Regions from separate parts of the Homo sapiens genome. Here region 1 is linked to region 2. Evidence: fine-mapped expression QTL. Tissue or cell type: cerebellum. Region 2 holds a variant in brackets; the other region holds the start of a gene. All regions are shown on one strand. Distances are from middle to middle. Region 1 holds the start of WFDC1 (WAP four-disulfide core domain 1). Region 2 overlaps ATP2C2 (ATPase secretory pathway Ca2+ transporting 2).

Evidence for each region. PIP is the estimated chance that this variant, and not a neighbour inherited with it, causes the effect.
Region 1: it holds the start of WFDC1, and the variant in region 2 is fine-mapped to the expression of WFDC1 in cerebellum (GTEx, PIP 0.99).

Annotation. Positions count from the first base shown.
Region 1 is chr16:84,292,185-84,297,485 of GRCh38, forward strand. WFDC1 (WAP four-disulfide core domain 1) reads left to right here and starts at 2,694. Exons shown (of 7, transcript NM_021197.4): 1 at 2,694-2,931. The coding sequence starts at 2,788. LOC124903734 reads left to right here. Exons shown (of 6, transcript XM_047435022.1): 4 at 315-366; 5 at 1,333-1,451; 6 at 2,149-2,654. The coding sequence ends at 2,654.
Region 2 is chr16:84,388,551-84,393,901 of GRCh38, forward strand. The region is part of intron 1 of ATP2C2 (ATPase secretory pathway Ca2+ transporting 2); the gene reads left to right. Among named protein-coding and RNA genes, the nearest start is that of ATP2C2, 23 kb to the left of the region's middle. The variant A/G (reference allele first, on the strand shown) is at 3,058.

The sequences.
Region 1 (5,301 bases), 96 kb before region 2:
ATGGGAAACGCCTACATTTTAAGGGGAAGGTGGAGATGGAGGATGAGCAAGAACCACATGGGAGGCGTTAGCTGCCTTAGGAGAGCGCAGGGCCCCAGGTTCCAAGCAGCAGGAAGTTTCTCAAATGGAACCTGGGCCAAGGTTCCGCTCTGCCTGGAGAACAGGGTGCGGGTGGAGGAGGCCCAGGAGGCGGTGCCTCAGAACGCTCATCTCCTAACAGCAAGCATGTGCTGAGCCTAGATCCTCGCCTAAGTGCAGCTGGGCCTCATGGCAAACCTGCGAGTAAGTTCTGACTCCATACCCCTGTTTTACAGATGAGAAAACAGAGGCAGAGAGATGGGGCAGGACCTGTTCCAGGTCGTCCTGGTAAGTAGGGGTAGCAGCTCCATCATGTCCGTGGGTGGCTCCTGGCTTCTAAATAAGCAGCCTTGCCCTGCAGGGAGGGGCATTGAGACTGCGTCCCATAAAGCTGAAAGAAGAGGGAGTGGAGCACGCTGGACCATGCCCCCATAAGGGCTCAGCCAGTAGTTTCTGGATGAAGAAATGAAGGAATATTCTAGAATCTAGGGCAAGGTAATGATCAGGGCTGGGCCTAGCGGGAGGCAAAGGAGGCATCTAGGGTCTAAAATGTAAAAAGACTCTCACGCTTGGGCTCCTGGGTTTACAGGACTCTGATGGTGAACTTAAATTTTGCATTGCTCACTGGGCAAGTGTCTTAACCTCTCTGTGCATGGGATCCTAGACAGCACCTGCTTATAAGGCTAATATGAGACCTAAAAGCATTAAAATGCAGGAAGTGCTTCAAACATTGCCGAACACACAGACTGTATGGCTTTTAAGGTTTTTTTTTTTTGATACAGGGTCTTGCTCTGTGACCCAGGCTGGAGTACAGTGGCGCCATCACAGCTCACTGCAGCCTCAACCTCCCACGCTTAGGTGATCCTCCCATCTCAGTCTCCCAATTAGCTGGGACTACAGGTGTGCATCAGCACGCCGGGCTACTTTTTTTATTTTGTATTTTTTGTAGAGATGAGGTCTCACTATGTTGCCCAGACTGGTCTTGAACTCCTGGGCTCAAGGCATCCTCTGCCTCCCTAAGTGCTAGGATTACAAGTGTGAGCCACCGTACCCGACCTACACAGACTATATGTGTTTGCCACTATTGTCATTCACTAAAAGGCCAAGAGGGGTTGATGATACCTGCCCAGGGCATTCTGAAGGCTGTGCTGGCCAGGAGGTGGGGGGTGAGGGTCCCCAGGGAGGGAGGAACCAATCTTTCTGGAGCACTCACTCTGTGCAAGTGCTGGGCACAGCTGGCACCCTCTCCTGTAGCCCCACATCGATCTCAAGAGGCAGAGACTTTCACATGCCCATTTCACAGATGAGAGAACTGAGGACCATGAGCAAGAGGCTTTCCAGCATCTCGCAGAGGCTGAACTGGGATCAGGCAGGTGCGTCAAGCCTAGTGCTTGGGTCCCTTCTGCTTCGCCTAGGGGGGTGCCACAGGGTCTGACCTACCTGGGTTCCAGCCTCCTCTCTGCTGCTGTTGCATGACCTCAGGCAGCCCCCTCTGTTTCCTCATCTGTAAAGCGGGCATCAAAACAGTGTCTGTTTTGGGGCCGGGTGTGGTGGCTCACACACCTGTAATACCAGCACTTTGGGAGGCTGAGGCGGGCAGATCACTTAAGGTCAGGAGTTTGAGACCAGCCTGGCCAGCATGGTGAAACCCAGTCTCCACTAAAAATACAAAAATTAGCCAGGCATGGTGGCACATGCCTGTTATCCCAGCTACTTGGAAGGCCGAGACAGGAGAATCGCTTGAACCCGGGAGGCAGAGGTTGTAGTGATCTGTGATCACACCACTGCACTCCAGCGTGGGTGACAGAGCAAGACCCGTCTCGAAAAACAAAACAAAACAAAAAACCAGTATCTGTCTTGGAAGTGCTGAGAACAGACAAGGGAATATGAAGTTTGTGAAATGTTGAGCCCGCTGTGCTACATTCCTGTAAAACACACACGTGCACATGCACACCCACGTGCACACACGCATACACATAAATGCACATGTGCAGATACACCGGCTGACAGTGACAGCACACTTATGTGTGTGAAATGCTTTATGTGCTCAATTTCTTTTAAATCTCACAGGAAACACACGCTATGAGGAACTACCCACATGCCCACATCAGGCAGGAGGACCCCGGCGGGTGCAAGGGTGGAAGTCGTCTCTTCATGGCTGCACCCTTGGCCAGTGCCAGTCCAGCAGCCTCTTTCAAAGAAGCTTTTATAGGCAGATAGTTTGTCAGCCCAGCTCGAAATGTGAACAAGGTAGCAGCCGAGCCCCCACCCATCCGGCTGCACTCCCCTGCATGTCCAGCCCCGAGCCCTGTGTCAAGCACACCTCCTTGGGAGGAGACCGCCCCAGCCTGCAAGGAAGTGCTCATTATGGAGAGTGGAGAGTGACAGGCCACTCCCGGCCACGTCTCCAAGCAAGCCGGTGCCCCCTCCTCCTGCTGCCACCGCCCACTGAGCTGCCTGGGCTGCAGACGCCCTGGTTGGAGCGTCTGGGGCCAGATGTTATAGGGCAAGCTAAAAATAACCGGGCAGGCCAGCCACCATCGAGGAAGGGGCATGTGCTGGACGCGGACACATGATCCGAGGGACCCTGCTGGGTGGAACTAAGAAAGTCCAGCAGACTGTGCACGCTCCTGTCCCCACTCACAGGCCCACGCAGCGAGGGGGGCCCCTCTTCTGTGTGCGTCTGGAAGGTCGCTGCCCAGGGAGGAAATGCCTTTAACCGGCGTGGGGCCGGGCAGCTGCAGGAGGCAGATCATCCGGGCTCTGTGCCTCTTGCTACTTCTCCTCCACGCCGGCTCTGCCAAGAATATCTGGAAACGGGCATTGCCTGCGAGGCTGGCCGAGAAATCCCGTGTAAGTGCCTGGGATGGGGAGGCTGGGGCAGCCTGTGTGGGTGGGAGTCAGCCTTGAGGAGAGGCGATCCCTAGACACTGCCTTCTCCTGTAAGTGCTCCCCCAAAACGTGGCAAGGCAGGCGTCTTCCTATCCGTGTGTGTCTGAGTTGTGTGGTGGGCAGATGGGGCTCACCCCCAAAAAAGGACCCTTATCTGTGAATCAAGAGGCAAAAGACACATCACAAATGTGCCAAAGAATCGTGCCTTACTTTTGCCTTGTTACAAAAGTATGCTTGCTCCTGAAAGACAGCATCTCATTTCGGAACCCCAGGATTTAAACGGAGCATTCCGTCTCCCTGATCAGTACCAAATGTTTGTGAAATACACTTATGCATTCATGTGGTTGTTTATTCATTCAGCAAACAGAATGAATACACTCTGTTAAACAGAATTTAGCAGAAACCGCTCTGGGGAAGGCACTCTGTGGGGTCCTGTGGATACAAGATAAAGGAGGTACCAGCCCCCATCCTCAAGGGTGGCGTGGCCGAGGTGCAGAGGCAGTTGGGTGACAAACGATGGCAGTACAAAGAGAAGGCATGAGGCAGTGAGTGGCAAGAAACACATGCCCTGGGGCCAGATGTCTGGGTGTGAATCGGGCTCTGCTGCTCATTAGCTGCGTGGCTTCTCTCAGGCAAGCTGCTTGACGTCTCTGAACCCCAGCAATCTCATCTGCAAAAGACAGAGGGATGCATTTCTTCACACAACTATGTCTGGGTCGCCACTGTTTACCAGGTACTGTCCTAGGCTGTGGGGATACAGGCCTCACATCTCTGCCTGGGGAACTCAATGGGGGGCTGGGGGCAGCAAAGAATAAATGAGAGAGATCTCATTTATTAGTATGTGCAGATTGCAAGTGCTGAGGAAGCAATAAAGCAGGAAGGGAACTAGGAGAGAGAATGGGGTGGAGGAGGCTATCATTTTTGGTTCCTCCCACCCCCCAGAGATCACAGATCCGCAGGGACGGAGTGAGCCAGGACGATATCAGCACACAGAGGGCTCAAGAAGGTAATGCTGGCACCCACAGCACCTGTGTGAGGATTGAATGTCTCAGTATGTAGAACGTCTTTGCAACATAGCAAGCTGGCAGTGCATCTTGGCAGCTTTCAATCAAATAATTGTGACTTTGTTTGGTGTTGCCTAACAGGGTAGCATGTAGGTTCCTTGGGGTAGGGCAGGGTTCTGTTTCACTAATGTGTGCCCCTGGTGCCTGCCATTAAGTTGACGCCTGGTACATTCTTGTGGGTGAATTATGAGCGGCTGCAGTGGTAGCACGGGATGCGTGTGCAGCTCTTCCCCAGGAGAGTCAGACAGGGTTTTTAGGGTTGGGGACAGTGGACCTGTGGCTTTAAAGGATAAATAGGAGTTTGCCAGCTGGAGAAGAGGGAAGGGAGAATGATTAATGACCCCAGGCATAGTGGGGTGCCTGAAACTGTATTGAGACAAATCTGGGCCTCCAGGGCTCATATTCTCCATGTTCGGCACATGCTCGTGGCGGGAGACAGGAGGACTTCGAGAAGTGGAAAGAGTAGTAGAGTGACATGATGAGGCGCTTGGAGAAGGGAAAGCTCATGTGAGATGGTGTAGTCACCTAAGGCTTCCTGGAGGAGGTGGAGACCTTGACTGGATCTTGGGGAAGGATTAGGAATTAGGAGGAGGAAGGAAATTCCTGGAAGAAGGCTCAGCATGAGCCGAGGCTCACAGGCAGAAGTGGTGCATCTAAGAGCTGCTTGGGAGACCAGACCTGGCCAGAGGGGAGGCATTGAGGAGGGGTGAGAGACTCTTCTCAGATTTTATTGACTCCTCCATGCTCTTCTCTGGTGCAACAGGATGATTTAACCCTCAACTGTAGTTAGTAGCACTTTGGTTCTACAACCATAGAGAGATTGCCAATATGTCATCTGATTTTATCTCCACCATGTCCCAAGATGTCATAGGAGCCAGCACTGTGACATCCACATAGGAGGGTCAGGGTTGATATGCGCGGGGGATTTGGGGGAGTCTCTAAAACACAGGCCTGGGTGGGCTGCAGGAGCTGATTCACTTGTAGCCACCACTGGTCAGGATGCAAGTGCTTTGAATTGGCTCCTCGCTGAATTGAAACTTTCCCTGGTTATCAACAGATATTGGCCTCCTTCCTCAGCGCCTAGACATAGGTGAGGTTTATGCAGAACAACTGTGCCAGCCAGGCACGGTGGCTCATGCCTGTAATCCCAGCACTTTGGGAGGCCGAGGCGGGTGGATCACCTGAGGTCAGGAGTTCAAGACCAGCCTGACCAACATGGTGAAACCCCATCTCTACTAAAAATACAAAATTAGCTGGGTGTGGCGGC
Region 2 (5,351 bases):
CTGTGCCTTGGGAGAGAAGGATAGAGAAGCCTTGGAAAGAAGGAAGCATCTGCCTGAGTGTGGCTTATTTGGGTGTGTGTCTCCAATGTCACCCTTGTCAGGAAGCCCACTCGATTGTTTTGTTCTTGTGTCATTCTGACTCTTGCATTGATTCTCTCCAAAGGCATCGATCCCAATAATTACGTGCCCTATATTGTGAAATTCTTTTTTTGTTTTGTTTTATTTCTGTTTTTGTTTTTTGAGATGGAGTCTCGCTCTGTTGCCAGGCTAGAGTGCAGTGGTGCAATCTTGGCTCACTGCTACCTCCGCCTCCTGGGTTCAAGCGATTCTCCTGCCTCAGCCTCCTGAGTAGCTGGGGCTACAGGTGGGCGCCACCATGCTCGGCTAATTTTTGTATTTTTAGTAGAGATGGGGTTTCACCATGTTACCCAGGATGGTCTCAATCTCTTGACCTCGTGATCCACCCAAAGTGCTGGGATTACAGGCATGAGCCACCGCGCCCGGCCTATATTGTGAAATTCTTGAAGGATTGGGGCTGGAGGATTCACTAGGCCCAGGGTTCTTTCTCTGCCTCTTCTCTTTCTCTGAAACCCCCAGGGGCCAAGTGCTTTCCACAACCTAAGGCATTTGGGATTCCCACATGAGCCGTTTTCTTGTTCTTCTCAGCACCTTCATGCCTGTTCTTCCCTCAGCCCAGAAGGCCCCTCATTCCAGTACCTCTCTCAACTGCTTTCTCACAATTCCTGGGTGCCTTTCTAGATTCCCCGCGATCTGCACTGGGGCCCGCCCATCTCCTTCGTTGTTAGCTGCACCCCAGGAGGGCGTGACCACCACGCGAGTTTTGAGCATCTCTCGGCTTGTTCATGCCTCTGGTGTCGTCAGATTTACACATGACACACAGTCATGGTTGAATTTCAAACAATAAGTGCACGCTTGTCCCATGCGGTACTCGTGTATACTGGAAAATCATCTGGTGTTTATCTGGAGTGCAAAGGTAACTGGCATCTGTATTTTCGTTTCTTAAACGCGGCAGCCCTCTTCGGGCCCCTTGGTGTCCTCTAAGGACGAGGACTCCTGCTGTCCCCACCTCTGGTCACCGCTGTCACCCTAAGGCCCTCAGTGCTCCCTGGTGCTGGGCTCTGTGCTGGGAACTTCACTCTCACTGTTTCCTTTTTTTTTTTTTTTTTTGAGATGGAGTTTAGCTCTGTCACCCAGGCTGGAGTACGGTGGCGCTATCTCCGCTCACTTCAACCTCTGCCTCCTGGGTCCAAGCAGTTCTCCTGCCTCAGCCTCCCGAGTAGCTGGGACTACAGGCATGTGCTATCACGTTTGGCTAACTTTTTTGTATTTTTAGTAGAGACAGGGTTTCACCATGTTGGCCAGGCTGCTTTCGAACTCCTGACCTCTAATGATCCACCCACCTCAGTCTCCCAAAGTGCTGGGATTACAGGCCTGAGCCACCATGTCCAGTCTCACTTTCCTTTATCCCACGGCAGCCCTGTGGACCCCGGCTGTTATACCCTTAGCCCCCCACATTCCAGGGGAGGAAACTGAGGCACGGGCTAGGCTTTGGTCAAATATGTTGAAGCAATGCATGTCTGCATAAGCCCTCTAACAGGGAAGATCATTAGGGTCTAACGCAGTCCAAGTTCGCAATGAACCGAATCCCGGGGCTGGACGGGAGGGCGCCACAGCGGGGCTGGACTGAGGGAGGCTGTTCGCCCGGAGGTGCCGCTGGCTCCCTTGCTCTGGAGTGAGCTCACAGCTCCAACTCACCTTTCAGCAAGGGCCATACGTGCACTTCGTGGTCCCCTCGGGAGCCTCTGGTAGGTTAAACGTCAGTCCTGAGCTGCGCTTGTTGGGTGCAGCTTCTCTTGGAAACCTTTCTCTTCTAGGCCGTTTCCTTGGGGCTAGGGAGGCTGCGCTCACCGTCGCCCGCGTGGGTCTATCTGCAGCAGGCAAATAACATCTTGGGGGTTCCAAAGGAGGCACAGACACAGAAGATGGATGTGAAGTAGGCGGGACCGTGACGTCCATAGAGACAGGAAGCAGATGAGTCGTTCCGGAGGCTGGAAAGGGCGTGGGGAGTGCCTGCTTCCTGGGCACAGGATTTTCCTCTGGCGGGCGGTGAAAGTGTTTGGGGATGAGCTCCACGTGGTGCCTGCACAACATTGCAAAGGTACTAGATGCACTGAACTGCATGCTCTAAAACAGTTAATTTTTTGTTATGTGGATTTCATCTTATAAAAAGCTTTAAAAAGGGAAACACAAAAGAAAAGGGGGCCGGGCGCGGTGGCTCACGCCTGTAATCCCAGTACTTTGGGAGGCCGAGGTGGGCGGATCACCTGAGGTCAGGAGTTTGAGACCAGCCCGGCCAACATGTTCAAACCCCGTCTCTACTAAAAATACAAAAATTAGCCCGGCGTGGTGGTGGGCACCTGTAATCCCAGCTACTCGAGTGGGTGAGGCAGGAGAATGGCTTGAGCCCTGGGGGCAGAGGTTGCAGTGAGCCGAGATCACACTGCTGCACTCCAGCCTGGGTGACAGAGTGAGACTCAGACTCAAAAAAAAAAAAAAAAAAAAAGAAGAAGAAGAAGGGAAGGTTTGGTTCTGCCTAAATCACCTGTGATGGAGAGGGAGAATTAGGGACACTCTCTGACCTTTACCAGGATGCGCCACTCTCATTACAAAAGGAACACTTGCGATTCACAGTGGACTGATGTCTACAAAGTAACAAGAAGCTACAGCCTCGGACCCTTCAGCCCCACAGCCCCGGGGCAGCTACTGCCATCTCTCGCATCTTCTGTGGACGCACATACATGCTGTTATGGTCAAGGCGTGTCCTCCCAAAAACATGTTGAAGCCCTAACCCCTGGTACCTGTGAATGCAACCTTATTTGCAAATAGGGTCTTTATCCATGCAGTCAAATTAAAATGAGGTCACACTGGAGTTGTGTGGGCCCTAACCCAATGACTGGGGTCTTTATAAGAAAAGCAGACAGAGACGCTTGGGAATATAGCCATGTGCTGGCAGAGGCAGAGACTGCTGTGATACGT[A/G]CACATGCCAAGAACGCGGAAGATTGTCAGCCACCGCCAGAAACTGGGAGAGGAAGAAAAGATCTTGCCTGCAGGGTTCAATGGGAACGTGGCCCTGCCAGCATCTTGGTTTCAGAGTTTTAGCTTCCAGAACTGAGAGAACAAATTTCGGTTGTTTTAAGCCACCGAGTTTGTGTTGGTTGTTTGTTACAGCCGTGGAGACCAAGCAGCCATGGGAAACTCACACACAAAGTTGAATTGAAACTGTTTCCAAGTTCTTTTATGTGACTCCCGTTCCCTCCCCTCCCTTCATCTTTCCTTCCTTCCTCTTTTTTTTTTTAAAACAAAACTAGGATTATATTACGACGATTGTTCTGCAAAAGGTTTTTTTTTTAATTTGATGACATATCAGTGACGTCTCCTTAGGTCAAATCATATAACACCTCTTTTCTCTTTAATTTTATACTATTTAATTTTGTATTTTGTATTGGAGAATTCCAATCATATGCAGAAATAGACAGAATAATGGAATGAGCCCACATGACTCTGTTACCCAGTGCCAATGAGGGGAGCCAATCTTGACTCCTGTCTACCCCAGATTGTTTTGACACAAATCTCAGGCTTCCTAGCATTTCATCTATAAATATTTCTGCATATCTATGGCTAAAGAGAAGAACTCTTTAAAATATCACAATTACCATTATCATATCATAAAATATTAACAATTAGAGAAAATCAAATATTGGCCAATATTGAGGTTCCCTTGGGCTCCTAAACACTGCTTCACGCTGGTTTATTCAAATCAGGACTCAAGTGAGGTCCCAGCCTGCACTTGGCTGGGGTCTCTGATGGTTCTCTGCGTCTGCACGTTTCATCCTTGTGTTTTTCGTTTTGAGATGGAATTCTGCTCTTGTTGCCCAGGCTGGAGTGCAGTGGCGTGATCTCAGCTCACTGCAACCTCTGCCTCCTGAGTTCAAGTGATTCTCCTACCTTAGCCTCCTGAGTAGCTGGGATTACAGGTGCCCGCCACCACGCCCGGCTAATTCTTATATTTTTAGTAGAGATGGGCTTTCACCATGTTGACAAGGCTGGTCTCGAACTGCTGACTTCAGGTGATCTGCCTGCCTTGGCCTCTCAAAGTGCTGGGATTACGGGCGTGAGCCACTGCGCCCGGCCCATTCTTGTGTTTTTGTTGTAGTTTACATGCTGGGGAGGCCGGGCTGTGTGTCCTACAGTTCCCACAGTCTAGTGATCATGTCCCCATGGTGTCATTCAACGTGTCTATTATCTCCAGTATTTCCTGTCAACTGGTGGGTGGGCCTAGAATGGAGGCTTGGTGCAACTCAGGAGATGTGTTTGGCTGCCTGACAGCGTAGGTGCATCATGGCTGATCAACCTTCCTCACGATTTACCCTGAGTTTGTTTCCAGTTTTTGAGTGCCTCAGCTTCAAGGTGGGCCATTCTGGGTCATGGCAATGTCCTGATCAGCAGCGGGCACGGGCCCACTTGGAGAGAAGAAGTGAGTGTGTGTTTGGGGTTGGGTAGAGGGATGGGGGCCGTACCAGAGTCTGTAGTTTCTGGAAACAGAGTGGACAATCCTGTTTTCAACAAAGGATACATTAAGTGCCATTTAGATTATGGAGCTGTGTGATTGGAATCAACCCGGGGCAGATTAGGCCCCCGGGCCCCTATGCATTCTTAAGGAGATGAGGGGGGTGCCCAGGTAAGCATCCCAGGTAGGAGTCTCCCAAATGCAGGGCGAGGAGTGGCAGCGTCCACGAGCTCAGTCACCAACCCAGGGACTCTGTTTCCTGACTGTCACGAGACTGGACTGAGGCAGAGCAAGCCCTCACTTACAATGTATTGGGTCCAGGGCTATGTCCCGGTGGCCTTGAAACACCGAAATGACCTGGAGATCTGGCTGAAGTCGGTTGAGAAGTGGATAGGAAATGAAAAGATAGAGACAGCAAGTATAGACACTCCTTCTAAAAGCTCGATGTTGGCAAATGAGGAAGGAGCAGGTGTATTTCCAATGCAAGGCCCAGAAAAGAGGTTATGTTTAAAGTGGAAACCCATGCTGAGATGTTTATGGGAGGAGCCAGCAAAGAGGGGAGGAGGATAGAGGATGGGAGGCCAGTGGATGGGAGGCTATGGGTGTGGGGGGAGTGGGGGTGGAGGGGGCTGTGACCGACACAGGTGGGACCCAGGAGAGAGTCAGGAGGACGGTTTCTAAGTGGTGGACGGAGTTCCTGCCTGTAGCTTGTAAATGGCTTTAAAAAAACAAAAAGGCTAGGCATGGTGGCTCACACCTGTAA